Linked DNA regions of Homo sapiens: regions 1 and 2 are each reported to be linked to region 3. The links are microRNA targets in miRTarBase. Many come from high-throughput screens and were not tested one by one. Region 3 holds a microRNA gene; each other region holds the end of a gene's coding sequence.
What was found. Region 3 holds the annotated microRNA hsa-miR-374c-5p (AUAAUACAACCUGCUAAGUGCU, at 3,902-3,923, opposite strand). A microRNA usually pairs through its seed, bases 2 to 8, with sites in the 3' UTR of a target mRNA and lowers its output. Matches are read on the target gene's strand: a 7mer-m8 pairs with bases 2 to 8, a 7mer-A1 pairs with bases 2 to 7 and ends in A, and an 8mer does both.

Region 1 (11,084 bases), not on the chromosome of region 3:
AGGGACCTCTGCTATCTTGTTATACAACTTCTTGATTCTAAATGTGAATTATTTAAGATTCTACATCTAGACAGACAAATTTATTTTTCAAACTGCAGGTTATAAACTATCTAATGCTTAATCAAAATAAGCTTAATGGGTAGTGACTAACACTTTTTAAAAACTGAAACCGAATAGGAGATACCAGAATTCATTGGACCTACTACTATTTTTTGGTGAAACTTTTATTTCATTGGAGGGTGGTGATGTACTGGGAGTGATAAAAAATATGTTTCTGGCCAGGCACAGTGGCTCACACCTATAATCCCAGCACTTTGGGAGGCCAAGGTGGGAGGATCACTGGAGCCCAGGAGTTCAAGACCAGCCTAGACAACACAGGGAGACCCCATCTCTACAAAAAATAAAAAAATTAGGTGTGGTGGCACACGCCTATGATTCCAGCTCCTAGGGAGGCTGAGGTGGGAGGAATCACTTGAGCCCAGGAGGTTGAGGCAACAGTGAGCCATTGATCGCACCACTGCACTGCCACCTGGGTGACAAAGTGAGACCCTGTCTCAAAAAAGAATAAAAATAAAATTTTCTTACCATGGGTTGTGGTCAGGGTTTGAAAACTTCTACTCCACACTTACGAGCGTTAATGGTTGAATACTGGAGTACTGCTGAATGTTGTGTTGGCAGTTAAGTGCTGATTTTTAAAAATAGGATATTGTGTTGGTGATGTAAGCAGCATGTTTTCCTAGGTTGTTGTGGTAATAGTGAATACATTTTCATGTTTCAGTGAATTCGATGACTCTTGGTGAGGTAGAGCAACTGAATGCAAAGCTCCTACAGCAAATCCAGGGTAAGAATCACTGTCAGTACTTTTTTGTGTGTGACAAATTTTGACATAGAAAATCATCTATGATAGGACACCACTGGCTTTATCTACATTTAAATTTGGAAATGAGATATTCAAACCTGTTAGAGTTTCCAGAGCAAAAAGAATAAGAAAGAAACAACTTTCAACTGCAGAGGAAATACATTTTTCCTTTTTTTTTTTTTTTTGCGACAGAATCTTGCTTCATCACCCTAGCTGCAGTGCAGTGGTGATCCTCCCGAGTAGCTGGGACTTACTGTCATTACACCCAGCTAATTTTCTATTTTTTATAGGGAGGGGGTTTCATCATGTTGCCCAGGCTGATCTCGAGCTCCTGGGCTCAAACAGTCCTCCTGCCTCAGCCTCCCAAAGAGCTGGCATTACAGGTGTGAGCCACTGCGCCCAGCCACATTTTTCTTTTCTAAGTGAAAATGGAAACTACCACCTCTTACTAACATTTTATTGACTACCCACTATTGCACCAGGCACTATGTGGGAGTCCTCCCAAACAGTTCTTTAAGGCATGTGATATTAGTCTTTTTTGTTAAATTATAAACAATTTCAAACATATATAAAAGTAGTGAGACTAGTATAGTGAACCCTTTAAGCCATTTTCACCAGCTTCAACTGTTAGCAAAGGCATAATAATCAGTATCTCTACTTGCATCCATTCCCATTGCACTACCAGTAGCATGGATTATTTTCAAACAAATCCTAGCTAACACACTGTTTTTTGTCCATAAATAGTTTAGGATTTCCTCTAAAAGAGATAACTTTTTAAAAAACAGTCACAGTCTCATTATCACACCATTTAAAGTTAATAATTCCTTAACGTCATCAAGTATAATGCTAACACTAACAAGTAATGTTCAGATTCCGCAGTTGTCTCCTTTTCAATTTATTTCCTTTTAGATGAGAAAATTGTACTTCAGAGATGTTAAGTTGCTTACAGAGATCATGCATCCAATCAGTAGCAGATCAAGGATTTAAACTCCAAAGCTTAACCACACAGCCTCTCAGAATAATAAAAATAATCACAATAATAGTTGTAGTAGAAATTTATGAGTACTTTACAAATATGATCTCATTTAATTTTTACAGTAGCCTGGTGAAGTGCTTACTATCATTATTAATGTTACACAGAAAAGGAAATTGAAACCAAAAGTTGCTTGCCTGAGGCACGTAAGAGTAGGAACAAGGATTCAAAACTCTTAGTAGTCTGATTCCAAAGCCTCTTAGAGGGGGTTCCAGACCTGAATACTAACAGGCACTTCTTGTCCATAAATCACATTATGTACTAATTGAATCTGTTTATAGATTCTAATTGAGAAAAGTAGCTCAGCTACAGTAGCAACCACCATTTTTGCTGTGTATCTCTGTAGTCACTTGATGGAGAAGAGCCAAATTCCATTTGGCTATGTAAAGTATACAGATGCCTAGGATGATCAGAACTGATATGCTTTGTAGAGAACAGAACTGTTTCCTTGGTATCAAATCAGTTTCATTGTGACACTTTGCCCAATGCATAGATTTCAGTTAGAGTTCTTGAAATATAAATCATAGCACCGGCTTTCTGCATACTAAAAATGAAAGTTTTTAAATCTTTTACAGAAGTTTTTGAAGAGTTAACTCACCAAGTGCAAGAAAAAGATTCTTTGGCCTCACAGCTCCATGTCCGCCACGTTGCCATCGAACAGCTTCTGAAGAACTGTTCTAAGTTACCATGTCTGCAAGTAGGGCGAACAGGAATGAAGTCGCACCTACCCATAAACAACTGACCTAAACAGACTTACTTCGTATGCCCTGCCCTTTATTGGTCTCCCAGACATGCAAACTTTGAAGAAGTTTGAAGAAAGTTGTGGTCCGTTTTTTTATGGTCATTAAATTTGCCAAACATAAGGCAGTATTTAACATCTTTGTCAAATAAAGCAGATCATTATACTCTAGTCTTCTAGGGCTAATCATTTTGGCTCATTTGGGGACTCTTTTTTCCCAGAATTACTAAACAAATTTTATCACATGTGACTACTTAAATATACTGTTACAGTGTCATTTTATTAAACATTTTAATTCACCTGTCAAAACAACAGATTAACTCCTTAGTGTAAACTACTAGAGATAATTTTTAAGAGGGAAATGGAATTCATATCACCTCTTATTTATTATGAGCAATATTTTAATATAAAAATTTTATATGTGAAAATGCTATTTTAGGTACTTTGCCATTCTCTTTATAAATGTGTATTTGAGTGGTTCTGTATATTTATTTACATTATCATGTGTGAATATGTTCACCCATATTTCAGGTCACTGCATTTTATTCTCTTAATACAATGTTTTCACAACGGTTACCTTGCTTTCCAAAGATAAATATATTTTGGATTAGAAATCTGAGTTGTTTTAATTTCTAATACCTCTTGTAAAAGAAGAATTAATAACTTTTTAAAGCAGTATTCAGGTAAATACAATACATTATTTTGTTTTCTAACAAAAGCAGTTCTTAGTTCAGGAAGAAAAGACTAATCTGGCTTCTATGTCAATTTGTCTCCATAGAAATGAAAGCCTCCTCTTGCTTCTTTCATTATTAGCTTCACACCAGTGACTGTGATGCATTAGAATTTGGACAGAGTAAGTCAAGCCTCACTTCCAATTCAAATATAATGTCTATCTTCAAATTGAGTGTGCTGTGAAATTGTTCTGTCTTTGAAAAAAAAAAGTAAGATTATTTTGTGTGCCACTTTGGGTAAAGTTTCAAGAATACTTAAACTGTCCAAATTGTATTATCACCATCATTGAACTTAGTGCTCAAAGAAAGCATTGTGAGGTATTTTTCTAAACTTTAGACTCTATAGAGAAATATAGGATTGTTCTACAGAAGAAAAGCAAAACTCCTAATTAAAAAAAAATAAACCTATGTATTAAGAGAATGTTCTCGTAAGTTGCCTATGATGCTTCCAAAGAGTTTTTATCTAACAGATTGTGCCAAACAGCTAGATAAATTTTAATAATGTATTACAGTAAAGGCTATAACCAATGCAGAATTAAAATGGGCTCTAAATTCTGTTTTTAACTCATGTTTAGAATGTACTTATGAGGTAGATCCTTGCTTGAAAGTATCTGCTGAAAAGCCCAGTAACGTGGCAGCTTCATGCATAAAGATATAAATGACATTTGCCTTAAATTTGGCAGCCTACCCTGGCTTGGGTCAGATTTTGTTGTTGAACACAAGAAAGTATTTAAGCAAAGAAACACTTCAGTTTAATTGAAAACAACTTTTTGTAATGCTGACGTGTTAAATTGGCCTGAGGGTATTAATTGATATCTGTTGATTTTGTTTTTCTTTGAAGTATAACATTACTTTTTGGAGGGAATTTTTGAAAGATGCTTTCGATTTCTCTCAATTCTTTAAGTCATGCAAAATGAATTTAAAATCCAGGGAGTATGGATGCATTGCCTTAGTTTTGATGAGCTTTAAATTAAATGTGTGCAATATCAAAATATTCAAACTTACAAGCTGGGTAAATACATTTCCTGATTAATATCTTAGTGCTTAATTGTTCCCACATTTTCAAATTTGACTTTACTCTTTTTTGGCGTAATTCAGTAAGATTGTTACCAGCCAGTGTGTTTGCACACATTTGGGTTTGTGTTTAGATGAGTTAGGGACAGTCATAAAAGTTGGGGATATGTTGCATTTGATATCAATAGTAGCATATTTCCAGAATATGAGCCATAAGTTGCAGTCCTGAATACAACAGTGTTATCCAAAGAAAGGAGTTTTCTGACAAATATACATAGCTTTGCTAATGAGTACGGAACAAGTGGATGAACGTGTGCATGTGCTAAGGTCTTAAGTGGGACTCTGATTTATTCCATTTAGATATTTCTACTTAAGCTCTAAAAAGGAGAGGTGCTCTTAAAAAAAACTTTGTGGTGCTGGTACTCACACTACTTTATTTGGATGAGTTCCTAGTAAAAAAAACTTTTTGTTGAAGTATTTTGCACAGCAGTTTATCCAAATGTTTGGTAAACTTATAATTTAGTCCTATGTTAGTTTTCTTAATCAAATATGCAATTACTGTGTATGCAAATATAAGTATCAGGTACAGAGTTGAGTTCTAACAAGAGAACATGAAATATCACAAATATTGTTTTCCACACTTGGCTATTCTCTACAGTTGTTAGTAATTTTTGAGAATGTTTTGAAGCATATCTCATGTACTACTGTTTAAAAAGTGGCAAAACAGACTGCCAGTCATCCATTACTAAATTTTCAGAGCTTATATGATTAAGGGGAGTGAGATAAGACAAATCTTTTTCACGTTCAGTTTTATAATTTGACACGTTAAATTGAGTTTTAAAAATTAGAAAAGTGTTTTTGACCACACAGGTTGTTCTCTTTAAAGTTCAGCCTTATAATGAAGCTAAAAATCAATTATGTTTTACTTTGAGATTATCATCTTATCCTTTGATCCTCATATTAATATCTAAATTAGTCTTTTTTAAAAGGCATGCACTTGAGACTCCAGTAATAGATGATTCAGGCAGCAGAATAGTGTTTTGTTGTGTCGTTGACTATGCACAATGGTGGAGCAAAGACACATTCTTAGTTTTTCAAAACACATGTTCATTTTACCACAAAGTGCCCATTTTTATATACATTTAAGGATTATTTTTTCAATGTCAAGTTCATGTTAGTGATTTCAGAAATATAGTCAAAATATATAGTCAAATATATCTTGACAGGCATCTTGAGATTTGGTTTTTCATTTTACTATATTTATGACTGAAAATGGTTTTGTGTTTTCTTTATGTTGTTTATATATTTTTTACCTTAGTGTTTACACTGGTAAGGCTTGTTAGTCCATTTTTGTAGTTTTTTTAAAGTAAGCTTTTAGATCTATTTGTGTTTTAATGTTTCCCAGTTTGGGTTTTGTTTTGTTTTGGAAGAATCTGCTTTCATTATTAAATTATAAAATGTAAATGCTCTAAAGTAGGAATTTTTAAAGAGTAAATTATTTGTGTAGCTTATTAGGAGGTTCAGGTTAGTGACCATAAAGTGGGTTACTTGTACATGAAAATTTGAAATGGTACCATGTAAAATTCTTCTATTGTCAACTTTTTCTGATGTATGCCAGTTCATTTACTGACAAATGTTGTTACTAAGTGCTTATTAAGAAGTGTAATACGCTATAAAAAAGTTAATACTTTTTGTTCAGATGTAAGGCAAAGATAATTGATGCCGTTTCAGTGTATGATTGTATTTTTAACTTTTACGTTGGTGGGAGTAACTATTTGAGGAAATTTGTGGTGAGAATTAGTAAGAGATAAAACCCCCAACAGTTTATTCTTACCAAGTAAAGTTTTGTGGTCATGGGGCAGGGAAGAGTTTATTTACCAGAATACTAGAGCCCTCACACAAAATAAAGGTAACTTGGAGGAGGGCTATAATGCTTGCATCTCAGTATTTTCATTTCACTTCATCCTTTCATAATTGCCTTGATTATGGTGCAGTCTAACCTATTAAGCAACTTCTGGCTATGGTAACATTGATATGAACCATATTATATCAAGTCTCCAAAACATCTAGTTTGTTAACATACACTTTCCCTGTTCTTTTTAGTTTGAGTCCACATTACTAATACATTTTAATAATATTTAATTATTTCACAATTTTAAGTTTACCAAAGTAAACAAAAATTCATGAAGATGAGTATTGCCCTCTCCCAAAAAAGGTTTAAAGATTAGTTGAACTTCCCTCAACTACACCTAAAGCAAAGGGGAATTTTAGTAAGTGTGTGTACCTTGTTTCTTTCAGACGCATCTAGAATGTTTTTCTTTCACCGTACCTCCAAAAGAGGCAATTTAGAAAGTATTAAGTAGTGACTTTTGTTCAGTTCCATTTTGTGTGTGTGTGTGTGTGTGTGTGTGTGTGTGTGAACCTTGCTTTAAAACAGTAGCGTATACTATGGTCATTGAACTTAATCTCTCTGGTGTTAGAAATTTACTTTACAAAATTGTGTTAAGACTTTTGGAAAAAGAAAATGAAACTGCTGTGGTAAAAACCAAGTTTGTTTCAAAAAAGTAGGCAATTATTTGGCTGTTATATTTTCTTTGAAAACTGCAATAATTTATATATTTGTATTGCTCTGCTTGGGAACTGTATATATGCTTGTCTACTATTTTTAATTTTACAACAATAAAATAAGTATTTTGTTATCTGCTAGCTTGAGTGGATGCTTTGAAAAGTAGCTATATTTTTTTAAATAGTGGGTCTATATGGTTTTGCTTTGCAGGTTTAGGGAGTCTATAAATGATCTTATCTGACAATTTCTTGTAATAATCTTACCTTATCTCTGATACTTAATATTCTCTGTTTCCCAACAATACAGAAGCAGGAAATAAGTTGCCTGTGACTTACTAGATGTGTATGCAATTTTTTTTAATTGGGGTGTAATTTATATACAGTAAGCACAAACATTTTACTGTATTGTTTGAATTTTAACAAATGTATGCAACTGTAGAGCCATCACTCCCTTTGGTTCCCCTCACAGTCACTTCACTTTTTATTTCCCTTCCACTGATTGTTCTGATCCTTTTTTTTTTTGAGATGGAGTCTCACTCTGTTGTCCAGGCTGGAGTGCAGTGGCACGATTTCAACTCACTGCAACCTCCACCTCCAGGTTCAAGCGATTCTCCTGCCTCATCCTCCTGAGTAGCTAGGATTACAGGTGCACACCACCATGCCCGGCTAATTTTTGCATTTTTACTAGAGACGGGGTTTTGCCTTGTTGCCCAGGCTGGTCTTGAACTCCTGACCTCAGGTGATCTGCCCGCCTCAGCCTCCCAAAGTGCTCGGATTACAGGTGTGAGCCACTGCGCCTGGCCTGATTGTTCTGATCTTTATTACTGTACTTTGCATTTGCCTGCATTAAAAACTTTACATAAATGTAGTGATACAGCATATGCTCATTTGCTCCAGGCTTTTTTCATTCCACTGGATGTTCTTAAAATTCATCCATGTTAGCTCAAAGATCAGTAATAGTTCATAGTTCATTTCCTTTTTTTTTTCTTTTTTTGGCTGAGTACTGCTCCTTTGTATGAATATATCATAATTTAATTATTCACCTGTTGATGGACATTTGAGTTGTTTTTAGTTTGGGGCTTATATGAATATGAATATTTTTAAATCGGCTTTAAAAATATTAAAATAGGAATACAACAAAATATTCAAGGTCACTTTTAGTTAGCATTACGAATCTGAATATTACATTACCAGTTTTTTTTCCACAAATGATTTTTAAAGTCATTTATATGATGCTTTTATGGCAACAAGCAGTTTAAAACTAGGAAACAGATGATTTTACAAAAGCTCAGAGGCAAATTACAAAATAAGGACTGCTGGAGAATTGAAACATTTCGTGGGGTACTAGAAGAATCTGTCGTTTTTGAAAGTCTCTTCAAAGTCTAATAGTCATACTGCTTTGTTTTTCAGGAGAGGAAATGGAGACCAAGAGTCTGGTTTGGAAAGAGTACCAGACTACAAATGAAGTGCTCCTGTTTAGCTTTAACTAACTGACATTAAGAGAAACTAACTTTTCTAAGCCTGAATTTGTTAGGCTTTGCTCATGCTCAGTTTCCCAGCCTTCTTGGGAATTTTCAAACTATTTGTAAAATGGTTTGTTCTCCCCTAATTTTTAATGTATCATAGGACCAGAAATTCTTTGCAGGTGTCTTAGAGGCCGACAAGTCATACGTGGATGATGGATAGAATAGGAAGGGGAGCTGCAGGCAGAACAAGGCCTGTTTTATATATTGATACTCTAAATTCATAAAAACCTGTTCGAAAGGTTTTGCTTTTAGAATCTGATAAAAGTGATGCATTGGATCCTTGCAAGTTTATGTCTTTGGGTTTTATTTTCTATTTTTGATTTTGGTTTTGTGGTTTTCTGCTGTTCTTCCACGTCTGAATCCCTTTCTAGTGTTTGGATGGCACAAGTCACCACCTCTAGAAGCAAAAACTTCAACCTCCTGTGTATCTGAGGCACCTCGCCCTGACTGGTAAAGCAAAGAAACTGGATAGGAGAAGGCCTGTGTTGAGGGCATCAATGGCTAACTGTCAGCAGGGACAACAGCCATTATCCCATATCCAGTGAGTACAACAGGTAAGTTCCTGACATTGGTGTTTGAATAGCCATTGCCTTGTGTACATTAGACTGTGATCCTAGTAGTTGATTACATCACCTTTGTTCCTGCGTGGTTTCCCAGCCTTCTGGGTGATCTCTCCCCATTGAATAAATTCCTTTATAGCCTAAGTCAACTAGTTGCTTTCTCTAGCTTGCAACTCAGAACTCTTGTTAAACCTAACCTCTTCCACTGGGTCTATGTCCTGTGTTCTACTCTGAGATCTTATGAAATTCATTTCCAGAGGTGAACTGCTAAGAGCCAATGCATATCTAAACTAACCCTCAGCCACATGGGCTGCCTTTTGAGTCAACTGAATCTGCTGGGAAGATTCTGAAGAGAAATTAAACCTCTTGGTAATGCAGATGTCAGTTTTCCTGTTAAGAATGTGCTTTAGGATGGGCACGTTGGCGCATGCCTATAATCCCAGCACTTTGGGAGGCCAAGGCCGGTAGATTGCTTAAGTCCAGGAGTTCAAGACCAGCCTGAGCGATGTAGCAAGACTCTGTATGTACAAAAAATATAAAAATTAGCCTGGCATGATGGCATAGGCCTGTAGTCCTGGCTACTTGGTGGGGCAGAGACTGAGGTGGGAGGATTGCTTGAGCCCAGGAGGTCAACGCTGCAGTGAGCCGTGATTGTGCCACTGCAGTCTAGCCTGAGTGACAGAGCAAGACTTTGTCTCAAAAAAAAAAAAAAAAAAAAAAAGAGAAAAAGGAAACCACTGCTCCAAACCATAAACTGCCCCAGAATTTACTTCCCAAAAGATGTGGTAATGCTACTTTCCTGCTAAGAGACCTTTCTAGATTATCACTGCCTACAAAACAAAAGCCAGTCCCCACAGTTTAGCATTTAAAGCCTTCACCATTTGGCATCCACTTATTTTCCATTCTAAATCTTTCGTCAATTTTCAGATTTCGTTATGTTGCCAGAAACTCTGCCAAGCCCTGTAAGTCTTTGGGTCTAAGGGATATAAAAGCCAACAAGACTCTGTTGGTCAACTGGAAAGTATTCTGCCAAGAGATTGAAAGAATAAGGATTGAATAATGTTCATTGTATTTAGCAACCAGAAATTCATGGAGTACAGTTTTAATGGACCTGTGGGAGCAAAAGTAGATCACAACAGATTGTAATATGGATGCAACGTAGTACCATGATTTGAATGTGTTCCCTGAAGTTCATGTGTTGGAAACTTAATCCCAAAAGCAACAGCATCGAGAGGTGGAGTCTACTAAGAGGTGATTAAGTCATGAAGACTCTACCCTCACGGATGAATTAATGTTATGGACGGAGTGGGTTAGTTATCATGAGAGTGCCTTTGTTATAAAAGCAAGTTCAGCCCCCTCTTGTTTGCTTGCTCACATCCTCTTGCTCTTTCCACCATGTTATCACACAGCATGAAGTCTTGCTACCTTGCCAGATGCTATCACCATGCCCTTGGACTTCCCAACCTCCAGGATTGTAAGCCAAATCAATAACTGTTTGTTATTAATTATCCATTCTGTAGTACTCTGTGATAGCAACATAAAATAGACTAAGACAGGTAGGATAGTGGATTTGAGGTATGATGTCTTTAAAATTTTATGAAGTGAAGTTGAGGTAAAGAGGATGTTGGGTCAAGGTTATTTTTTTAAGGTTGGGAAGTACTTGAACATGAATAAATACTAAGAGGACAGAGCCAGTAGAAAGGCTAACGATAGAGAGGTAGCAATAATCAAAGGAGCCCAGTTTGAAGACACAGAACAGAGTAGCACACCGAGAATGACTTGTCTTTGAAGAGGTTTAGGATTACCTCAGGTTTTGACACTAGAGAGAAGGTAAAACTACAGATGAAAGTATTTGAATCAGATTTGTTGGAGAGTAAGTTGAGAAAGTACTTAAATGGCTGCCTCTATTTTCTGTGAGAAAGACGAAAAAGATAATGGGTCAGAGATTCAAGGGAAGTGGTAAAGTGCTGAATAGTTACTACTTGAGGAATGAGAAGGGTCCTGACCATCAGAGGAGGGGTTTAGAAGAGGTGGAAATGAGGAACCATGACTCACCA
Region 2 (11,084 bases), not on the chromosome of region 3:
TTTCAGTGTGCAGCTGCCTGTACTCTATTTAGAGAGGATGTGAGTTAAGCATTTCTAGTTAGAGTGGTGAGAGCTTCCAGGGCATGGTGGTGGCTATCCTCAACATGAGAAGTCTCAAGACATCAGAGGGCTGCTTCATTCCCCAATGTTATCACAGCCCAAGGACCTCAGGGCACACAGCTTATGGCCTAGAAACATCTGTTAAATGAATAAACAGAAGAATGCCAATGTGTGTGTACGAAGTACGTTGCTGCCTCAGCATCACCCAAGACTACTGAGGTGAGGTCCCTCTCCTCCAGCCTGGTCAGGGGAGGTAGCACATGGATGGCAGTCCTAAAAGACCTCTCCTCAGACCCTGAGCTGCTAGAGAAAATGCCTGGGGAGCTGGTGCCAAGCAACAGGGCTGGAAGAATCAAGCCATGGGAAGAGTTTATGAGCAAGAATCAGTGAGAGGAAGAAAACTCAGGGGCAGATCTGGGGCAGTCAGGGCCAGGGAACTAAGTTAGAAACAGATGGGCCAGAGCCAGGAAGGACCAAGCCAGTGGCTGCGTTGGCAGATAAAGTAGCTGCCAGATGAGTACTTCAGACCAGATCAATGAAGTGGACTCAAGTCTCCAGAAAGAAAGAGTTTGCACTTCTCCAAAGGTCCAAGGCTGTCTGGTAGAAACTTCTCCAATTACGGAAATGTTCTGTATCTGTGTTGTCCAATATGGTAGCCACAAGCCACATGTGGCTATTTTCAGCCATCTCAAAGTGTGGCAAAGTGACTAAGGAACTGAATTCTTAATTTTAATTAATTTTAAGATCACTAGAAAACCCTTAGTAGGGCCAGGTACGGTGACTCATGCCTGTAATCCCAGCACTTTGGAAGGCCAAGGTGGGAGGGTCAGTTGAGCTCAGGAGTGGAGACCAGCCTGGGCAATAAAGTGAGACCTCGTCTCTACCAAAAAAAAAAAAAAAATTAGCTGGGAGTGGTGGCGTGGGCCTGTAGTCTTAGCTACTCGGAAGGCTGAGGTGGGAGAATCGCTTAAGCCTGGGAGGTTGAGACTGCAATGAGCCATGATCGCACCACTGCATTCCAGCCTGGGCAATAGAGCAAGACCCTGTCTCAAAAACAACAACAACAAAAGCAAAAACAACAGAAAACCATTAGGAGAAATTGCTCAAGACTTTAACTCTGTACCAAAAGCACAATGACCCAGCAGGAATCCCTGCCTCTATGTTCTCAGGTCAGAGTGGAGAGTGGCTGGATGTTTGAACTGTGTAAACAGATGCAAAAACAGTTGAGGAATAAACATCGACTGAAAAAATAAGTGGCGACAGGCTCTGAATCAGAATCAAGATCTCCAAAAAAACCAAATTTCCAACCGAGGATAACATCATAAGTATTTCAAGCCAAAGACCCTTCTACGTGGAAGCTGCCTGAGCTAAAGCGAAGGATGGAAGGAGGGTTTGGTCGTTTCACCTCCTACATTATCACTTCCATTCAGTTGCCACCATGTCCTTTTAATTCCCCCTGACACTGTGATAGACTGTCTCCAGGGAGTGATGAGATCAAATGTTTCTGAAGACCACTCTAGCCATGATACGGAGGATGGACTGGAGGACTGCTAAGCTGGAGGAGCTGTAAGGCAGGGTGCTGCAGAAGTCCAAAGGAATTGGGGCCACAAAGAGATGGCGATGGGAATGGAAAAACAAAAGGACATCTAGGATGTGGCAGCTGAGGGTTATGTTGAAAACTGCTTGAATATGGGAGGAAGAGAGAGAGCAGAATGAGGATGAGGCTGTCTCAAGCAATGATAAATGGTGCAGGTTGTAAAAACAGACTACGTGAATCCAAATCCTGTTTTGTTGTTGTTGTTGTTTGTTTTTCACTTACAAACTGGGTATCTGGAGTGAACTTAATCTGTTTTCCTGTTTCTGTAGAAGTGATTGCCCCTCTATCACCCGCCACAGCACCTGTGTGGCAGGTGTGAAGAATGGTGCCCAGAATTCTACAAGCTCCTGGGGAGAGCTCACTTCTCTCCCTCCCTCACACCCAGCATCTACCTGAAGATGATCAGGGCTGTCATCATGCCCTCTAACCCTCTTTATGCCAGTTATTGCCACAAGAAGCCAGGAACCCTAGATCATGCCTTATCTCCTAGACTCCATACATCCTCTCTTGTGGTCCCATTTCTATCCTTCTCTAGCTCATAAAACCCTTTGCCTCTGCCCTCTGGGTCTCACAGTCATCAGCAACAACCCTCAGACTCTCAACCTCGTGTTGACATTCTCTCCACGCCTTTGATCTGAGCCTTGGCTCTCTGCTGAGGACACTGTTTCTTCTGCAGCCCTCTCCAGTGCTGCTGATGGTGTTCTCATATCTCCTGTACAACTCCTAACAGTTGTATAGGTAATCCTCAATGCTGTTTCCAGACCATTCTCCCACCTTCCTTCCCAAGAATGCCTCACCACTGAATCTCATGTCATCTGACTATATCCCTAATACCTCCCACCTTGTTGGTCACCACACATCATGAGACCTATCATGTTTTCAACTTTTTAGCTCCTGGCTTGCTGTCACTCTTTCAAATACTGCTGTTGTCATAATGCTTAGTTCTCTCAACATCTTTCATACCTCTGGCTCGCTATCTCTAGTAGGCAAACCGCAACTCTTCAACCACACACAGACCAACAATCCATTGATCCAGGTGTTCTCACTGTCCTCAATCCCATGTGGCCTCCTTTCCATACTTACCCAGCTTAGCTTCCACGCTCTATCATTACAATCACTCCTTTGCATCAATCTTAACACTACCTTTGTCCCTGCCCAGTTATGTTGCATTCACCTACAAAAACCCCACTGCTTGTTAAATCCGTATCTCAGTCTGTTCCACATCTGCCTCCTAATAGGTGAATGTAAAGGGAAAAACATGCCACCATGCTGATGGGTCTCAGTGTAAATCCAGAACACTCATTCAGTTCCTTAGTCATGTGGGCCTCTAGTGCTGCCAGGGACCCTCCTTCATTTTCCAGTCCATTCATTCCCCCCATCATACTAGCTGACAATAGAAATATTCTAGGGGCTGGATTGAAGGTAGTGTTGTCTCAATTGATTGTTCAGTCAGTTACAGATAGAATTCCTTGTTCTACTCTCCCTTCTCAACACTGTTCTTTAAAAACAACTTTTTAGAAGAAATATTCTAGGTACATTTATGGGTATTAGCACAATTCTCACAACTATCCTATGTGATTCTGTTTGTCTGATTAACAGATGAAGAAAATGAGATACAAAATGTCAAAATAACGTCCCCCAGATCGTGTAGCCAGTGAGTGGTCAAGCCAAGATTCAAATCTATGCAGATGGCTCCAAAGTTTGAGTTCTTGACCTTATTAGGATTAATTCATATCTTGTTATCTCATCAAACTTCCAACACCTCCACCTGCTCTTCCTCTAACCTCATTTCAGTTGGTTACCTTCTTGGGTTTTTTCCAATGAAGAGACACCAAATTAACTTCCACAAACCCTCACTATCACCTCTACCCACCTAATTGCCTCTGTGCCCGTATATGCCTTCCCTCCTGAACTATGCCCAAATTATTATTCTCCTATCTTCTCCTATCTAAACCAACCCTTCCACTTGGGCACTTGACCCTTGCCACTGCTCCAGCAGTGCCACCTCCCCTGGATCCTATATCATGTTTTTCCTTCTCTACAGGATTATCCCCACTGACACACATTCATTCTGTCATTGTTGCCAACTTAAATCTCAAATTAATTATAAATCTCAAAACAATTATGCTAAGTGAAAGAAGCCAGACCCCCCAAATCCTAAATTCTAATTCCATTTTATAAAATTCTAGAAAATGAACACTAATCTATGGTGACAGGAAGTAGTTCAGTAGTTGCCTGAGGCGAAGGGGCCAAGGGATGGATTACCAAGGGCAGGAGGAAACTTTTGAGGGTATTAAACATGTTCATTAACTTGATTGTGGTTTCAAGGGTGTATAAATGTCAAAACATATCAAATGAACACCTTAAATATGTGTAGTTTATAGCATATCAATTATACCTAATTAAAAAAAACTCTTGACCCCACATACCTCCAGTCATTGCCCAATTTTGTATTCCCTTTTACGTTAAAACTCCCTAAAGAGCTGTCAAAATGCACCATCGCCAGTTTCTACACCATTCTGTATCTTACTACTCTCCCCTCCCTTGCTCCATGCCAGCTAAATGGGCCACCTTGCCATTCCTAACTCCCCAGGCACACTTCTCCACTCTGCCCCTAGATAGCAATGAGGATCCTTCACTTCCTAAAGAACTTTGCTCAATTGCCATCCCAGTGAGGCCTTCCCTAACTACTCTATTTAAAACTCCAACCCACCAATCACCCCTGACATTTGCCATCTCCCTCCCCTGCCTGATTGGTCTCCATCTCATTTAGCACCACGTGACCCCACTACATATGTACTTGTTCACTGAGTATCTCCCCTAATCAGAATATTGAGGGAGATATTTTGTCTATTTTGTTCATTGCTATAACCTTGATACCCTGGCCTCTAATGTGTCTCAATAAATATCAGGACCAGTGGATTAGTGTTTTCAGAGTCATTTGGTTGTAAATAAGAGAAAACCACTCACAGTCAACTAAGCAAACAAGTGTTAGAGGGAATCCAAAAATATCATGGACCCCTGGGGGAAGAGGTACAACCAGAATAGGGCAATAGGAAGTCATCAGGAACTAAGATGGTTTCTCTCTCCTCTAGTCTGAACTATTAAAGCAGGATAATCTTTATTTTCTTTGCACTTAGGTTTCATTCTTGTTCATTCTCTACAAACCAACTTTCTCCGCTGATGACCTAGACATAGCATTCCCAGCCTCCCATTTTCCCAGATCAGGAATTTCATTATAAATCCCAATTACAAATCCCTGCTTAGAGAAGGGTTGAGTCAGTTGTACCACCATGGTCCAGTTAACTATAGCTGAGGGAACAGGCATGCGGCTTTTTAATGTCTAAGAGGGTATTTTGTTCCTAGAAAATGAAATGCCCTCATTGAGTTGAACAGACTAAATTTGTTTTAACAATCCCATTTACAATTCAAATTCCTTTAAACAACTTAATAGCATTTATACATTTAAAAAAATGATTCTTTTAAGCAGCATTGCAAATGCTTGACCCCATTAGCATAAACCTTCCCAAGTGCTTAAATCTCATAAACATAATAAATTAAACATACGGTGACTTTCCAAGTTCTCTGAAACATTTCAGTACTTTTGCAGACTTAGTAACATTTTAAAATACCTTTCAACTGAAACTCATAAGTCTAAAAGTCTGTTAAGCATTTTAAATTAGAATCTTAAGGCCAGTGTCACATATTGTAATATGCCAATTATGTTTAAATACTTCAAACAGCAAATACTACAGTTTATCTCAATGAATATAATAACCATTCCTGCTGGGCGCAGTGGCTCATGCCTTTAATCCCAGTCATTAAGGAGGCTGAGGTGGGAAGATTGCTTGAAACCAGGAGATTGCCTCAGGCCTGGGCAACATGGTGAGACCTCTTATCTCAAAAAATCAAAATAAAAAATTAGCTGGGCATGGTGGCTCATCCCTGTAGCCCCAGCTTCTCAGGAGGCTGAGGTGGGAGGATAGCTTCAGCCTAGGAGACAGAAGCTGCAGTGAGCTATGATCACACCACTACACTCCAGCCTGGACAACAGAAAGAGACCTTGTCTCTAAAAACAAAACAAAACAAACAAACAAAAAAGTACTCCTGAATTTAAGTATTGATGGCTATGGGAATTGCTTCCTAACCTGTTTGAAAAATGTGTTAACTGTTACATATTTTGAGAACTGCAGCACTCAGTGAAGCTTTGTTAAAGGGAATGAGGAGTTTAGGCCCCAGCAGGCAAACCACTTCACAGTGCTAGGATGAAGAGCTCACACTCAGGGACTTCGAGAGTGAATCAACTACTTTCGTTAACTCAATGTTAAATGAGAATAACATCAACCTTGGATGGTTGTGGTGAGAATCAAATGAAATGACATATGGGAAAACCTTTGTCACATGTTACACAATTGACGGCAACTACAGCTTTAGGTAGAATTTCAACTTCTAATTTTTACTACTATGCAAATTATCAGAATATTTATGATGTTAACTTTTTAAAAAGGTTTTTAAATAGAAACTTTATTTAAATAAATGAACTCTTCTCAACCCCAAAACCCAGCTTCTGATCTTGACTAAGTTCATAATTACTCAGGGAAAAACACTGCTGGTTCCTTATAAGCCACTGTGCTGTACGAAATCAATTCATGAAAAGGAAACGCCCTATTTCCAAGCATACCTGTACTAGAATATATTAAGTATATTCACTTAACATATTAATTTAAATGTTAATGTTAGTCTAAATGTTAAATTAATTTAATATGTTAAACTTAATACGTTTATTTAATTTTTACTTAATACCCTTACTGGAACATATTAAGCATTTTTTCGGCTTAAAAAAAACAAAAAAACAAAAAAAAACCCTGAATTTACAGAACTAAAATTATGAGAGGAGATTCGCATTACAAAATCTTCCTCTATGGGTTCTTCTAGCTCAAGACATTTTTCTTACTGATTTTTAACTACTTGAGTTGGCGTAATAATTAGAGAAAAGCAGGAGAGGTAGCAACTGTGAAACCAGTGTACTAGGAGTTACTAGCCAATGATTATCTATCAGGAACAGATACATCAAAAAGCCAAGAAAATAAGAATCTCTCTTTATAAAAAAATAATAGTTACAGGCTGGACACAGTGGCTCACACCTGTAATCCAAGCACTTCGGGAGGCAGAGGCAGGTAGATCACTTGAGGTCAGGAGTTTTAGACCAGCCCGGTAAGGTGAAACCCCGTCTCTACTAAAACTACAAAAATTAGCCAGGCGTGGTGGGGCACACCTGTAATCCCAGCTACTCAGGAGGCTGAGGCAGGAGAACTGCTTAAACCCGGGAGGGCAGAGGTTGCAGTGGACTGAGATTGCATCACTGTACTCCAGCCTGGGCGATAAAGCGAGACCCTGTCTTTAAAAAAAAAAAAAAAACTTCTAAAAAATAATTATTTACATTAAACTTTTAAAAACAACTATTTTTCAAAGCAAACTGCTCTGCATTGGGGTTCCGAAATACAATATGATTGTGAATAATGGGGGGAGGAATCTAAATACAAATCAGAGAAAACAGTTTTCAGAGGATTAGGTAGCTTAGCTACAAGATTAGCTTGAAACATATGAAGAATAGTCTGAAAGGCTGTTGTAAGAAAAATGACAAATTCTATCATTCCTCTGACCTGAAACAAGGTGAAAACTTGGTAGAAAGGCTGCATGAAGAAAAAAAAAAAAGTAGTCCAATAAGGTCTATCTGTAGAGCTTGCTCTCACACTCTGAATACAAATCTAGCTAGTGTCAGTTCTTCAGAGCCGAAAACTTACTTGCCACACTTGGAACCGATGCAGTCCCATTACCAGCTGAAGCAGGGCATGTGATCTAAGACAAGTGTAGATATCAAGGAGACAGGAAGCAAGCTAAGCAAGGGCCTAGAAATCCCAAAGGCACTGATTAAAGTCAAGAAAGAGGCTTTTTGTTGTTGCCAATTGTTTTTGTTGTCTTCCAGAGGTAATACAAGGCTTTGCTCCTTTAGCAGGATTCCCAGTTGGACCCTCTCCAGAGAGGATTCATATTTGAATTCCCATCTGAATACCAACCCAAATGTTGATACAGAACACTCCTGTATTAAAATTAATATCCATCCCAGATAAACCTACTCTGTGACTAAGACAATTGAGATCTTCTAGGTGAAGATGCTATAATTCAAAATATTACATGGAAAACCATGTCTTACTTAAAACGGGTACTTGTTTTCCGGCCATAATTATTCCAGTCTCTTCCACAGAACTGCTTCTGCAAACAGTTTTTTTAATGTATCAAAGAGAGTCTCTCGCCAACATTTAATACAGTCAAATCTATTCCAACTTCAGAGTTCTTATATGTCTTATTTAGCAGACACTATGATTCTATCTTCTTATTCTCTGGAAATCCATCAGATGTGTGTTCCAACACAGAAGTGCCTTCCTTCCTTCTCATGGTGGCAAAAAGCATATCCATCATCCCCAAGGTTTCTAACAATTCTCTTTGGTAATCAATCTCTTTTTCTACAAGTCCTTGAAGTAGTAAAAACTTTTTATCAACTACAGGGGACTGACCAATTACAGGCAGATATATATCTAAAAAGAGAGAAAGAAAACACATTAACTAGCAATATCTTTCCATACATTAAGTGAAAAGCAAAAGTTTTTAAAAGTATAAAAATATTAAACATAAGAACACTGAAAAATCTGTACTTATTTTATAATTAATTAATGATTTATAGAAAGTATAACAATCCCTCTGAGTAAATTAATTTCAAAAAATAATAATTACAGAAAGTATAGGGTGGAGTTCCTGACTTATTTTCATTTTCCCATTTGAAAAATTGTCATCGTCATTATAGATGTCTATGAAAAAAATTTTTTATAATAACCCTAGTCCCATCAATTCAAAGTCACACCACTATAAACATTTTACTACTTTTTAAACTGCACTGACTTGTTGTTTTCTCCATGAAAATCCATATTGAGATTTGATAAAAGCAAGATATTTTGATCTACTTGATTTCCAAATTTGATTATTTGACATCTCTACTTTTGCAAGCATGTTAGGATTTTCAAGTTTTAACAATGACTTACCAATAATTATTTCAGCAGCATTGATTAAAACAGGGGCAAATCTTGGCTGAGAAAGATTCCTACAAAGTAAAAATTCAGTTTAGTGAAACTTGTAAACTTAAAAAAAAAATCCTTAAAACAGATTTGTTTCATCAGTTCTCTACAAAGATCAAACTAAATGTCTTTTATTTGGTGATAAAGGATTTCAGATGCAAAATGTAAGTGTTTCACAGACAAAAAACATACCTTATCAAAAAATTAAGAACATGACTGATTTCCTTCTCATCCCGACCTGCAAGCGCATTTGCAAGGACTCCTCTTCGATTTAACTCCTTTATGATGGACACCGTAATCTCGGGTGTCTTTATTGTACAAGTGGGCTAGAAAAATTTTCAAAGTCAACATGAGTAGACAAAACAGCACAAAAAAAATCACTGTCTTGCACTAAATTATCAAGTTTGAATAATATTTATCTTCACAGTTCCAAGTCATGGTAATATGCAGGGTAAGTAATAACATGATTTTTTAAAAAATGCTCACTCACATCAAGAACTCTATCGAGTGCCTTAGAGATCCGAAAATGTTTCAGATCCCTGTCATACAATTCTAGGTGCTTCTTTGCTGGCCTGTTAATCAAAATGTCATCCTGCAATGAAAAGTACATTTATAGAGAAGGAAAATCAGCATCTGTGTAAATATACATTTAATATAAACTTTTTCATAATGAAGTGGTATCTCTGAACTATGTCACAAATAATGTTCATATGCCCATAATGTAGATTAAATAAAAATGCATCCTGCTAATCAGAGTCAAAAAAAGAAAAAAAAAAAGGAGTAACTTGCTACATCAACATGTTCTTACTCTCTTATAATTTTAACTTACAACATGCACCATTGCCTTAATTCTAGGTAAAAATTACTCATTTCAATTCTCTTTATGTGGCAGGCAGTGTGGTACAGTAGAAAGAGAAATCAAACAACAATCAGAGATAATGAGATCTAGTCTCAACAACTCTGGATACCAGTAATGAAATCCTGAATCAATCACAAATTATTTGTCGCTCAGTCTTCTCAGGTGCCAAACAGGGACATGATTGGTTCTACTACTTCTTGGGATTTAGATCAAATCAGGTAGTATGTGAAAGACATTATTTTGAATGCAGTAAAGCATTATAACATTATGTTATGATGCAGAGTATTACATAAAGTAGTCCTTGTTCCCCATTACTCATCAATAATGTCCCCAATCTAGCAATCTAGAAATAATTCTGATGTAGAGAAAAGCAAAATAAAGTGCCATGTGAACTACGCTTTCCAGTAATGTGCAGGGATGAAGCTGGCTACTCTAACAAATTTCACCCTTTAAACAAATATGAGAAATGCACAAATACCCGTTGCTTCATGTAATTTTTTCCTTTAATAAAGGTTCGATATGCAGGCCTTCTTCTTCTGGGAAGTGATTCCTTCTTTGCTTCAGATTTCCGATGTTTAACACTCAGTATTCCATTGGTCATTCCTACAACTATTGTCTCATCTTCATGCTAATAACAATTAGAAAAATAAGTTAGTCTATTCTTAACTCGTAATTTATAGTACTTTTACTTCAAAACACATTTACCATGTGTTTGCTGCTTGTCCATACATTCACCAACAGTTCCATTCAAATACACATAGTCTGCCTAACGATGATTGGTGCAAGACGTTAAAGCGAAATCATTTTTTCCTTAGGATACAACTACATTGACAGAACTTATACTTGTAAAATATCACTGGCAAAGTTTGTATAATACATAGTTAACGGCATCAAAGATTACACAGTAGCAAGACTTTTATGATCTTGCCCCCCAAAAATATTTTTAATAAGCTTTTCCTCTCCCAAATCAGATTTCTATATAATATAGTCAAATGCCTTCCTGCCCAAATGTGGCTTCTCATAAAACTTGACAGTATACATTTCAGAAAGAGCAGTAACAAAGAAAAGGAGATATTTCATTTTGTTGTCCCCTTCTCCCCACATCTTTTTTTCTGCTCAGAGAGCTAATCTGCCTTTCTAGTGTACTATAATACTCTTGAGTTAAATGAGTTGAAGAGAGATTTACCAGCTTCCCAGGTCCTGCGTTTAATGTTAACAATGCCTAGAGCACTGTATTTAGTTTGAAGTTCTACAGTGAGTGGGACCTAAATCTGAATTCATGCTGAGTCAATAGGACGAGTTACATATTCCAGCAATTGTCTTAACTCAAATATCTGATGTGGCAAGAAAAGTTACTCAAATCTAAAAATAAAGCCCAAAGTTCCATTTTAGTTTCATTTAACAGGCAGGGTTAGTGACAGACTTAAAAATAGGTAAA
Region 3 (11,084 bases):
TGTAGGGGTGAGCCACCGAGCCCAACCTTTTTATTTTTATTTTTAGTTAATTGATTTAGTTTTGTACTTTATTGTTTCTAGAAGCTTTTTACAAACATGGTTTTATTTGACCCTTATAACAGTTTGGTTAGGAATAAGAACAGATTCACCAATGTGTCTAATTTATAGGTGGAAAACAGGCTCAGAAGCTCTTTAGAATATCATGAGAAGAAGGGATGTGGGGAATTATTCAATACAACTTCTGTATTTTGCACTTCAAGAAACTGAGTACCAGAGTTAAAAATCTGGACATTTGGTGGATGTTCTTAGATTTGTGTTAATGCAAGAGGGTTGGATTAGATGATCTCACAGGGTATGGGAATGGATGGTGTGTTCCCTGTATCTACTGTGTAGTGTAAAGTTAATTGATACTAGCTCAACATATTAGATTAAGTGGCATTTTAGCAAACATGAATGAAAGGCACCAAAGGTTTAAGGGGGAATTTAAAACATTAGGTAGCAGCTTGTAGAGGATATATTTAGGGTCATGATGTCCTTCTTGTTGGCCTTAAAAACACTTCCTGCGCCAGGTTCAAGGGTCAATTGGGAACAGGATCAACAGAGGATGAGGGTTTTTTTTTGTTTGTTTTTGTATCATTTTAAGACAAGGTCTCACTCTGTTGCTCAGGCTGGAGTGCGGTGGTACAATCCCAGCTCACTGCAGCCTCCGCCTCCCTGAGCTCAGATGATCCTTCCACCTCTGCCTCCTGGGTAGCTGGGACTGCAGGCACATGTCACCATGCCTGGCTAATTTTTGTATTTTTCGTAGAGATGGGGTTTTGCCATGTTGTCCAGGCTGGTCTTAAACTCCTGGGCTCAAGTGATCTGCCCACCTCAGCCACCGAAAGTGCTGGGATTATAGGTGTCAACCGCCACACCCAACCAAATGAGTTATAAGTTTGTGATCTGTTTTTAGCCTTTGTCCACAACTGTGGGAGTCACCATTCACTCTGTGACATAGGCTCTCAGAATGATGGCTCTCTTGACTGTGGCACTGATCATAGATTTAGAAGCTCCAGTATGGGAGGACCTTAAAAGTCTCCTATCCCAAATAGATTATTTTAAACTAACCCCAGTTCAAGTCCCTGGATAACATACCCAACAAATGGTCTTTTAACTTCTGAGTAAGTTTACTTGGTAACTGGGGACTCCTCCTTGAGTTAGCTTGTCCCTTCTTTTGAGACCTCTTTACAACATTGAGCCCCAAAATGTTTTTCTATAGCTTCAATTCATTCAGCATATTTGTATTGTACCACTACTCAAGAACATTGCTTTATTCTCACTCCTGCATATTCAGCATCTCTCCTCTCTGCTGTCATTTGAGCTGCCAGGCACTGTGCTGGGTAGTGGGGATATGGAGATGAATTAGACACCATCCCCGTCCTCAAGGAGTTCTCAGTCTAGTGAGAGAGATCAACATCTATGTACACATATAATTACAACAATATGGTATGCTCTACAATGGAGGTATGTATAAGATACTCTGGAGTTCAAAGAGAAATCATTTTACAGAGTCTGGAGATGACAGAGCTCAGAGTACCTGGTATATGAGTTGAGTCTTTAAAGAAGTAAAGTCACCTTTTGACTAGGTGAAAAACAGGGAAAGGCTTTCCAAGCAAAAGCATGGACATTGGAAGTAGTATGATGAGTTTGGGGAACTACAAATAGTTCTCTAAATTAGGTTGGAAATGTAGGCCAGGAATAGAACTTTATATGGTATGCCATGGGATTTGGATTTCATTATAAGTGTTTTCAGAAAGGGATGCTTTTAGATGATCACTGGCAGTAGTGTGGGGTGTGTTCAGGAATGTTTTCAAATCTGGACAGGGAGATGAGTTAGAAGGATACTGTGGTGGCTAAGATGAGAAATGATGTAGGGCTGAAAGGAGTGGGAGTGGCGAAGAGGGGATAACCTCTTAGGAAGTTATAAAAATTTAGTCATGCATTGCTTAGCAATGGGGATATGTTCTGAGAAGTGTATTGTTAGGCGATTTTGTCATGTGAACTTCATAGAGTATATTAACACAAACCTCTCTAAATGGTATAGCCTATTACACACCTAGGCTACAAACCTGTACAGCATATGACTGTACTGAATACTGTAGGCAATTATAACAGAATGGTAAGTATTTGTGTACCTAAACATATATAAACATAGAAAAGCTACAGTAAAAATATGATATGATTTTGTGGTGGGACAACTGTGGGACAACTGTCATATATGAGGTTCATCATTGTCCTAAACATTGTTAGGCAGCACATGACTGTATAGACATAATAGAACTTATAGGAAAAGTTATAGAAAAACTTATAGAAAAAGACCTTGATGAAAAATACTGTCATATTCTTTGGATGAATGTTGCAATTAACTCCTTTTAGATCATAACTTGACTGTACAGATTGTGCAAGATTGTTTTCTGGGAACAGCTGTATATGAAATGTTGATTCTCAGGGAGACACCTAGACACCTGAATTGCAGCAGACATTTTATGGTGTTGCTAAGTTGCTGGTCCTTCTCATCAGTAGCAGGCCTACTCTCACTGTCACATATCTCCCACGGTTTTTTTTTTTTTTTTTTTTTTTTTTTTTGTAATTAACCAAAAGTGAAGGCTTTTATATCAAAGACTCAATTGAGGAAGCAGTGGCCTTAGTCATTATTGGCATAATTGCTTTAGTTTGCTTATGGATCTTAAAACGTTTATGACTATATCTGCAAGTAAAAAAAAAATTCAATAATTAAAAACCTAAACATATCGAGTGTTTATTTTCTCTTTTTGCAAAGGTATATTCTAAACTCAATGTTCTTCGGGAAATTTTCCAATTAAGGCTCTGAGTATTGATATTTGGGATTTAGAGAATGGCTTTCTATGACCAGAATGGTTAGTGATGAGATTTTATGTAAGTAGGACTGGGTTTTTCAGGGGGCCTTGTGTAACTTGCCATCAAGAGTTGGGAAAGGAGGCCCTGAGCAGTGCAGCAGAGCTATGTAAAGTGAGAGTTTGGGTCTTGGGACCAGGTAGCCTGGGCTCAAATCTGCTCTCACACTTAGCAATGTGGTCTTGAGCATGATTCTTCACTTCCCCAGGACTCTGTTTTCTCTTATGTAAAATAGGAATAATATTTATTTTCAATGATGGGGGTAAAAAGTACTTAAAGGGACTAATTATGTAAATTGCTTAGAACAGGCCTGGAATATACAGCTAAATGCTGTGTCAACTGTTGTTGCTGATAATGGTGTTGACTATGACAAGTATTAAAAGAAGAGATTTGACTAGAGGTACTTATATTTTGAATGATCAGTGACGATGTTAGGGTTGAGAAAGAAAAACAGTAACTGACTTGAAGGTTTTCAATGGTATGTAAGTGTGAGGTCATTTCACCTTTTATTTCTCTGCCAGGTAGAGTGGGAAACCAAATTAATCACTCCATGATCTAGTGACTAATCTATTGCCTTTGCTTTTAGTTCCAAATAGAAAGCTGTTGAAAAGTTGTTGTATTACACCTGCATAAAGGTTATCCTGAAAACAGAAAAATGCATTAGACTTTGTCAAAACTGGATTTGAAACCTAATTCAACTGCTTGCTGGCTGTGTGACTTAAACTTGTTGAACTTCAGTTTCTTCCTCTAATATAACTATTAATTTTCAGAGTTTCCATGAAGATATTTGTAAAGTGTTTGTCATAGGCACTCTATACATTAATTACAGCTATTATTGTTAGATCTTGGGACACCCAGCACGTGACAAAAACAACAGCAGACCCTGGTGCCTGGGAGGACTTCATGGATCCAGCAGCAACCTGGAGTGGTGCTCCTCTGAAGAAATCCTACTCGGATGGATATAATACAACCTGCTAAGTGTCCTAGCACTTAGCAGGTTGTATTATCATTGTCCGTGTCTATGGCTCTCGTCTACCAGACTTTAAATTCCTTAAGGGCAAGGACAGTGCCTTACTCATCTTTGTATTCACAGTGCCTAATCCGGTGCACATTGTAGGCCTCATTAAATGTTTGTTGAATGAAAAAATGAATCATCAACAGACATTAATTGGGCGCCTGCTCTGTGATCTCCATGGGCTCAGCTTGTCCCCGCCAGTTGCCAACAACGTCCAAGCTCTCTTCAGAATGCTTACTCCTGAAGCTTATTCCTGTCTTCTAATTCTTTTGTTGAGGACTTTTCTGTGTAGTGCAATGATAGCAAATACACTTCATCTCAAGTACCATCTCCAATTGATTGATAATGCCTGCCCTGATTATGTTTTATAACAAGATTCTGAAACCAGGTCTTATCTCAGTGTGAAAGACATTTATAACTATTTAGTGATGTCTGCTGAGGGTCGGAGAAGGGGGAGTAGCAGCACAAGTGCCTCATATGTCATATTTGCTACTCTGTTTTCTATGAAATACTTCATTTCTATGCCTGCATTTTGGTCTTAGCTACTTGCTGATGTTGCATGGCTGTTGCTGCTACTGTAATTGCTGCTAATTGCTCCCTGGGTTGGACCAGAGTGCTCATTGTCTGAACAGAAACCTCATCCTCACAGTCTGAGGTTTGCTCCTGTGGCTGATATTTAAAGTTTTCCCCTTTCAACTTTACTCCAGCTATCCCCTTACCTGCACTGACAGGTAATCCTCCACCGTCCTGTTCACCTCTCACCAGGTTCATATTTTCTTTATCTTATTTATTGTACTTAATCATTATTTTGTGAGAAGCTTTTCTGATTGTAGATGTGACAACCAGAATACAAGTTAAAACCACTTATCCAGCGCCTTACAGTGAATCATTTAACATGAGAAAAAAATTGAGTGTGTTTGCAGACCATGGGGCAGAAGGAATTGAGAAGGGAGTCATTGTAGATGTGAGAAAGAGAGAGATGATAATAGATGGAAGATGATCTTGAAAGATGATGCAGGTGAAGCTGGAAGGGTGAAATTTATGGCTCTAGAACACATGCAGGTGGAGGGTTAGCCTTAGGTAAGTGGAACTACCTCTTTGCTGGAGCACAGAGATAGGGATAGGAGTAAGGAAGAGGACTTGGCAAGGGTGGTGAAGATTTGTAATTGTAGAGGTGGATGATGGGGAGGAAGCTGACCAGGAACAGGAATATGAAGACAAAAGCTGCTGGAACAGAAATACTAGAGGGCTAAATATGAACCAGAGTCCCTAAGGAATATTCAGGCCAAAACGCTGGAGTGAGACCATTAACAGGAGAGCTTATGGTATATCAAAGTAAGAAATGAGTTTGAAACTGGGTTAGAAGCTCAGGAAAATATGAAGTGGTTTTGGGGCATTGTCACTAGCAGTATTTGGTTGCCTTGATTGATTGAGGGGTGGACAGCTAGCAAGAGACGAGTTACACAGAAATGGATTTAAGAATCCAAACTAAGGCCGGGCGCGGTGGCCCACACCTGTAATCACAGCACTTTGGAAGGCCAAGGTGGGCAGGTCACCTGAGGTCAGGAGTTCGAGACCAGCCTGACCAACATGGTGAAACCCTGTCTCTACTAAAAATGCAAAAATTAGCCAGGTGTGGTGGCACATGCCTGTAATCCCAGCTACTCAGGAGGCTGAGGCAGGAGAATCACTTGAACCCAGGAGGCGGAGGTTGCAGTGAGCCGAGATCCCACCCACTGTACTCCAGCCTGGGTAACAGAGTGAGACTTCATTTAAAAAAAAAAATCCAACCTGGACATGGAAGGAAGTAAGGTCAGGAGTGGCCTCAGTCTGGGCCAAAAAGAGGCTTTAATGTGAACAAGGTGAGTGCTGAGTAATTGGAAAACTGGAGTGATAGGACCTGTAATCAGAGTAGACTTTGGAGTGTTAGATTTCAAAACTGGAGTGGTTAAGATACCTGTGAAGCTAGGATGTCAGATGATCATTTACATGACTATTATAGTAACCCAGGATTATAGTAGAAGCTAGGCTTAGAATGAACACTGGGCCAGGTACAAAAGGCTTCAGTGACTGTGAGGAATGACTTGGAGGTTGGCACATGTTAACTGCAAATACTAGAGAAGAAAGGCTGTAGTGGGATAGTAGATGAGCCTTAGAAGAGTGGGGGGATCCAGGTGATTCCTTCTTTTATTGAGTATTTGCTCTATGCCTGACACCTTGCTATATGCCATCTGTTCCCTCTTTTGGGTCTGTCACACTTCAGGAGTGGGAGAATGCGCAAGAATTCCTGGTGAGAACAGCTAGGGGAGCTGTTGGCCTTTAGCACTGCTGGAATCCTGTGGCCGTCTCCTAACTCTTTCAAAGAGCTGCAGGCTGGTCAGCTTGAAGTGGCATAAAAAGATTTATTTAGGATCTAAATTTTTCCTTGATCTTGACCTAAGTTAGTTACATGTTACAAGCATTTGTTGGCCATGTTCCATAATGTACTTTGGCTTCTGAGCCTCTGAGTTGAAGAGTGAGCTAGTGCTGCTCTTAAAAAACAACAACAAAAACAAAAAACCAGTCATAGTACACACATGTTGATTAACCGGAGCAAGACACAATCCTATTAATTCAGCTTTTTAGGATAAAGGGTAGACAAAAGAAAGCTCACATCAATAGGTGAGTAACAACTACTTTGTAAAAGCCACTCTAGGGTCAGAATACATCCAGTTTAGTGGTCCATATTGTAGAATTTCCCTGTGCTGTTAGGGAAGAGGGCTGGCAATTGAGGCACAGAGATGGCCTTAAGGACAAGGAAGGTAAAGCTTAGGAGAAGAGAGTCTATAAAACCTCTGACATGGCATGCAGACATTTTTCTTTTGAGTACATTTTACTGGGGAGAGGATCCATGTCTTTTATATTCTCCAAATGACTCAATATTCCAAAAGAAGTTTAAGAACTACTGTGTTAAAGTGATCAGGCCCTCAGACAACCCATCCCCTCTTGTAGGGGCTGCTTTGTATTTATTCCTCAGGAGGAGCTGGTAGAAGACTTAATGTGAGGGAGAAGAAAAGGAAAGAAGTAGCGGGGGATGACTACAACCTCTCTTCATCTCAGCTTCACAAAGCATCATTCAACAAATGGATCACTATTAAGATCCTCTCCAGATCACAGGTTGCTATTTTCAAATGCATGCTTAGATTTCTCTTTTCTCTTGTCGCATTTCAGAAGTTACTGTACTCACCGATATGTGTATATGAATAGTTACTTCCCATACAGCTCCCCATGTTTACGGGAAAAAAAATTCTTAAAACATGGTAGAGTACTTGCTCTGTTTGGCCTTCAATAATGTTGTGGATCCCCACTGCTGGAATATAGGCCACCAGAGATGGGTTTGGATTTCAGCAATAAATGACCCAGCTTCATAGAAGGAGAGTAGTCAGCTGATTTGAAAGTAAACCCAATCCTTGTGCTCATATTTGTTTACTTTTTCCTTAAGCCTTATAAGTAAGACATATCACTGATGAGATCAAACAAAAGCCATAACTTTCTCCTTCCACTGGCACTTTTCTTTCCCACGTATATGCCTTTGGGAGCCACCCTCTTCTTTCATTTGCACTTTCGTCCCATCACTTAAGACCCAGAGAGGCATGAATGCTAAGGTTGAGGTTGAATTTGTCATAGTTATGGCTGGAGTTGAAAAATACTCAAATTGATTACTCTGATGCCCACGCCTTACCTGATCTCATATCAGCCATTGGAGATGTAGTCAAGGCCAGCAACTCTGCGAACTCCAGCCCCAGGATTTATGCCTGATGTCTCAACTGATCATGAAATACTGGTAGGAGGGCTTTCCCCATCCCAGGTCCCCCTTCTGATTTGGTCATCAGATATGTCCTTGTTTTAGGACATACAGATATGAACAGAAACAATATCAGGAGTCCTGGTTAGTTTTTGTCTCTCGAGGATGGGCAGGATAGGTTATAAGGGAAGTGGAAATTCTTGTGTGTTTCAAATACATTCCTTCTTTGTGGCGGGGAGATGGAGTCTTGCTCTGTCGCCCAAGCTGGAGTGTAGTGGCGCCATCTTGTCATCTTGGCTCACTGCAACCTCTGCCTCCTGAGTTCAAGCAATTCTACTGCCTCAGTCTCTCAAGTAGCTGGGACTATAAGCACATGGCACCACACCCAGCTAATTTTTGTATTTTTAGTAGAGATGGGGTTTCACCATGTTGGCCAGGCTGGTCTTGAACTCCTGACCTCAAGTGATCTGCCTGCCTTCGGCCTCCCAAAGTGCTGGGATTACAGGCGTTAGCCACTGTGCCTGAGTCAAATACATTCCTAATGAATCCCCAGGAGACCTTTGCTCACATCTTCTGTCACCTTATCCTGGCTCTTGCCTCATTTTTCTTTTCTAGAGTCATCCTAGGGAATTTCTTGCCCTCACTGACCTTCCTCCATTTCTTTCCCCACCTTGATGAGTTTCAGTAGGTCTTTTTTGCTTTCTCTCGTCCTAAGCCATTTGTCTCTAACAAGTCCCCATCTGAAAGTTTTATTGTGAATGAGTGAATGAAACCTTAGAGAGTGTTGCGAGTTACATTCATGTTGCCCTTGGATATAAAAAGAGAGGCAGATGCATTTGCTTTTGGGGTCTTAGTCGTGAATCCTTTGCCTAGGCCAATGTCCAGAAAAGTTTTTCCTGGTTATACTGTAGAAATGTCATGGTTTCGGGTCTTAGATTTAAGTCATTGTTCTATTTTGAGTTGATTTTTGTATAAGGTAAGAGAGATGGATTCAGTTTCATTCTTCTACATGTGGGCTATCTACTTTTCCCAGCACCATTTATTAAGTAGGATGTTGTTTCCCCAGTTTATATTTTTGTGTGCTTAGTTAACGATCAGTTGGTTGTAAATAGTTGGCTGTATTTCTGGGTTCTCTATTCTGTTCCATTGGTCTATGTGTCTACTTTTATACCAGTACCACGGGTACACTAAAATCTCAGACTTCACCACTATACAATTCATCCATGTAACCAAAAACCACTTTTACCCCAAAAGTTACTGAAATAAGTATTTTTAAAGATTTTAAAAAATAGAGAGGAAAGAGGAGGCTATGAAATTCCATAATGGAGTTACAGATGCTTGACATAATTTAGTGGATATTGGATTTAGAAGCTTACATGAATGAGGCAAACCTGAGATCTGTGATATTTGTAAATGAAGATAGGAGTGAACTTACTGCCCTTAGGAGTGGAGGGAGGGAAGGAAGGGAGAAAATGAGAGATGCCATAAAATCTATTACTTCAATGGATTTGAAGTAATCCTTTGAAGCAGGCAGTGAGACTTACTTCATAAATCCATACCTTTTTAATGTGGATTGGAGAGAAGTTGTTGCGCTGTAATACCTCTGTTGCTACTGTGAGAGTCATTGCCAGCCACTATTCTCATGTCAAGCTGCCCTTGAGGAGGTTTCTCTTGACCCAATTTAGAAACAACCCAAAACAAGGTTTGTAACTTAGAGGAATTCTTTGATTCTGTGACAAGGGGTCTGTGACCCTCTTAAAGGGATCAAGTACACAGGAGATAGTACAAGTAGTACTAAATAGCCAGCTTAAAAAATTGGATAGGTGAGATGAGACAGGAACAGTGGACAGAATGGCTCTAGGCATCCCCAAACACCACATCTGGGATAAGGAAATAGTACAATGGAAAGTCTATCCTTGGACCTACTATTTGTCATTCCCCATGGCATGATGGAATATCTAAAATAAAAAGAGTTGCTTTGGAGAAGGATTGCAAAATATTATTTCATAGAAGAGATTTAGAAGAGGGGAAACTCCCAATTACATAAGGTGGGCATTATAGCTTCTCAAAACATTGGTTCCCTATATGGGTCATGAAGATTGATCCCAGTATCAGCCTATGGCTTACTAGGCCAGTTTAACTGAAAGATTTAATGAGCTTGGAAGGATGCTGCCACCTGCACTCTCACTTTGGCGGGTGTTTATCACCAGTGAGTGCGGTCCCTAAAGGAGCAAAAGGACAATAAGCACCCAGTGGACAACAGTGTGGCATTTTGAGTGAAGATAGCAACTGAAAAGGTCATCGGCTTGGCTAGATTGGGCTGGGCTTGTTTTTTAAAAATAAAAAAAAAGTTTTCCTTCATGATAAAAGTAACAGGTGATCATTGTTAAAAAATAAAGTATGAATTAAAAAGTAAATAATATGTATAATTTTATAAGCCAGAAAACTAATTTGTAATATTCAGGTGTATGTCCTTTCATTCTTTTTAAAAATTATGTATATAACACAGTTTTATAACAAAATTGACATCATATTGTATATATCATTTTATTATCTAATTTTTTCATTTGAAAATTCACAAGCATATTTCCATGTTATTGTTCTTTGAAAAATACAATATTAAGTGCTCCATAATATCTTATGGATTTAACAAAGTTTATTTAGATGATGTCATGTTATTGGACATTTTGATTATTACCAAGTTTGCGTATAAAATTTAAATGTAATGAACATCATTGTACATTAACCTTTATGCACATCTGGAATTATTTCTTTAGAATAAGGTTCCAGAATTAAAATTATTTAGTTTGGATGATGAGAGCATTTATTAGAGCATCTGACAGGTGATGCTGAATTTTCCTCAATACAGTTGTGCAAATTGCATTCCCACCAGTAGTGTATAAATGTGAATATCCCTCCATATATTCATCAAAACATGGCCTTTCTAATTTTGTAAATCTCTGCTAATTTAATAGGTAAAAATATACCTTTGTTGCTTTAAAATTTTTATTTCTAATTTACACACAGTAAAATTCACTCTTTTTAGTATATGGTTCTATGGGTTTTGACAAATGCACAGTCATGTATCTTCTACACTAGTACCATACAGAGAAGTTCTGTCACTTTAATAATTTCTCTTGGTGGCTCTTTTTGTATTCAACCCCTTACCCCATACTCAATCTCTGGAAACCATCAATTTATTCTTCATCCCTATGGTTTTGCCTTTTCCAGAAGGTCATATAAGTGGAATCAAGCAATATGTAGCCCTTTTGGTCTGGCTTCTTTCACTTAGTAAAACGCAGTCAAGATTCTCCCATGTTTTGTGGATAATTATTTCATTCCTTTTTATCACTGAGTAGTACTTCATTG

Region 1: the mRNA of C21orf91 is a reported target of hsa-miR-374c-5p. Seed matches in the 3' UTR shown: 7mer-m8 at 3,633-3,639, 8mer at 3,771-3,778, 7mer-m8 at 3,865-3,871, 7mer-A1 at 4,165-4,171 and 7mer-A1 at 6,729-6,735.
Region 2: the mRNA of UTP15 is a reported target of hsa-miR-374c-5p. Seed matches in the 3' UTR shown: 8mer at 7,978-7,985, 7mer-m8 at 7,647-7,653, 7mer-A1 at 6,454-6,460 and 7mer-A1 at 6,430-6,436.

What each region holds. Positions count from the first base shown.
Region 1 is chr21:17,784,965-17,796,048 of GRCh38, reverse strand. C21orf91 (chromosome 21 open reading frame 91) reads left to right here. Exons shown (of 5, transcript NM_001100420.2): 4 at 779-841; 5 at 2,468-7,075. The coding sequence ends at 2,634. C21orf91-OT1 (C21orf91 overlapping transcript 1) reads left to right here and starts at 3,540. Exons shown (of 4, transcript NR_038871.1): 1 at 3,540-3,572; 2 at 8,839-9,021; 3 at 10,437-10,501. All of the region lies in intron 2 of LOC124900465 (a long non-coding RNA gene), which reads right to left. RefSeq lists enhancers at 1,920-2,089, 10,831-10,890.
Region 2 is chr5:73,577,046-73,588,129 of GRCh38, reverse strand. It overlaps UTP15 (UTP15 small subunit processome component), which reads right to left. Exons shown (of 13, transcript NM_032175.4): 9 at 10,125-10,274; 10 at 9,278-9,379; 11 at 8,980-9,113; 12 at 8,755-8,813; 13 at 4,750-8,253. The coding sequence ends at 8,036. Among named protein-coding and RNA genes, the nearest start is that of UTP15, 17 kb to the right of the region's middle.
Region 3 is chrX:74,211,400-74,222,483 of GRCh38, reverse strand. It overlaps MIR374C (microRNA 374c), which reads right to left and starts at 3,935; the gene lies at 3,866-3,935. All of the region lies in intron 5 of FTX (FTX transcript, XIST regulator), which reads left to right. It overlaps MIR421 (microRNA 421), which reads left to right and starts at 4,023; the gene lies at 4,023-4,107. It overlaps MIR374B (microRNA 374b), which reads left to right and starts at 3,866; the gene lies at 3,866-3,937. RefSeq lists an enhancer at 1-321.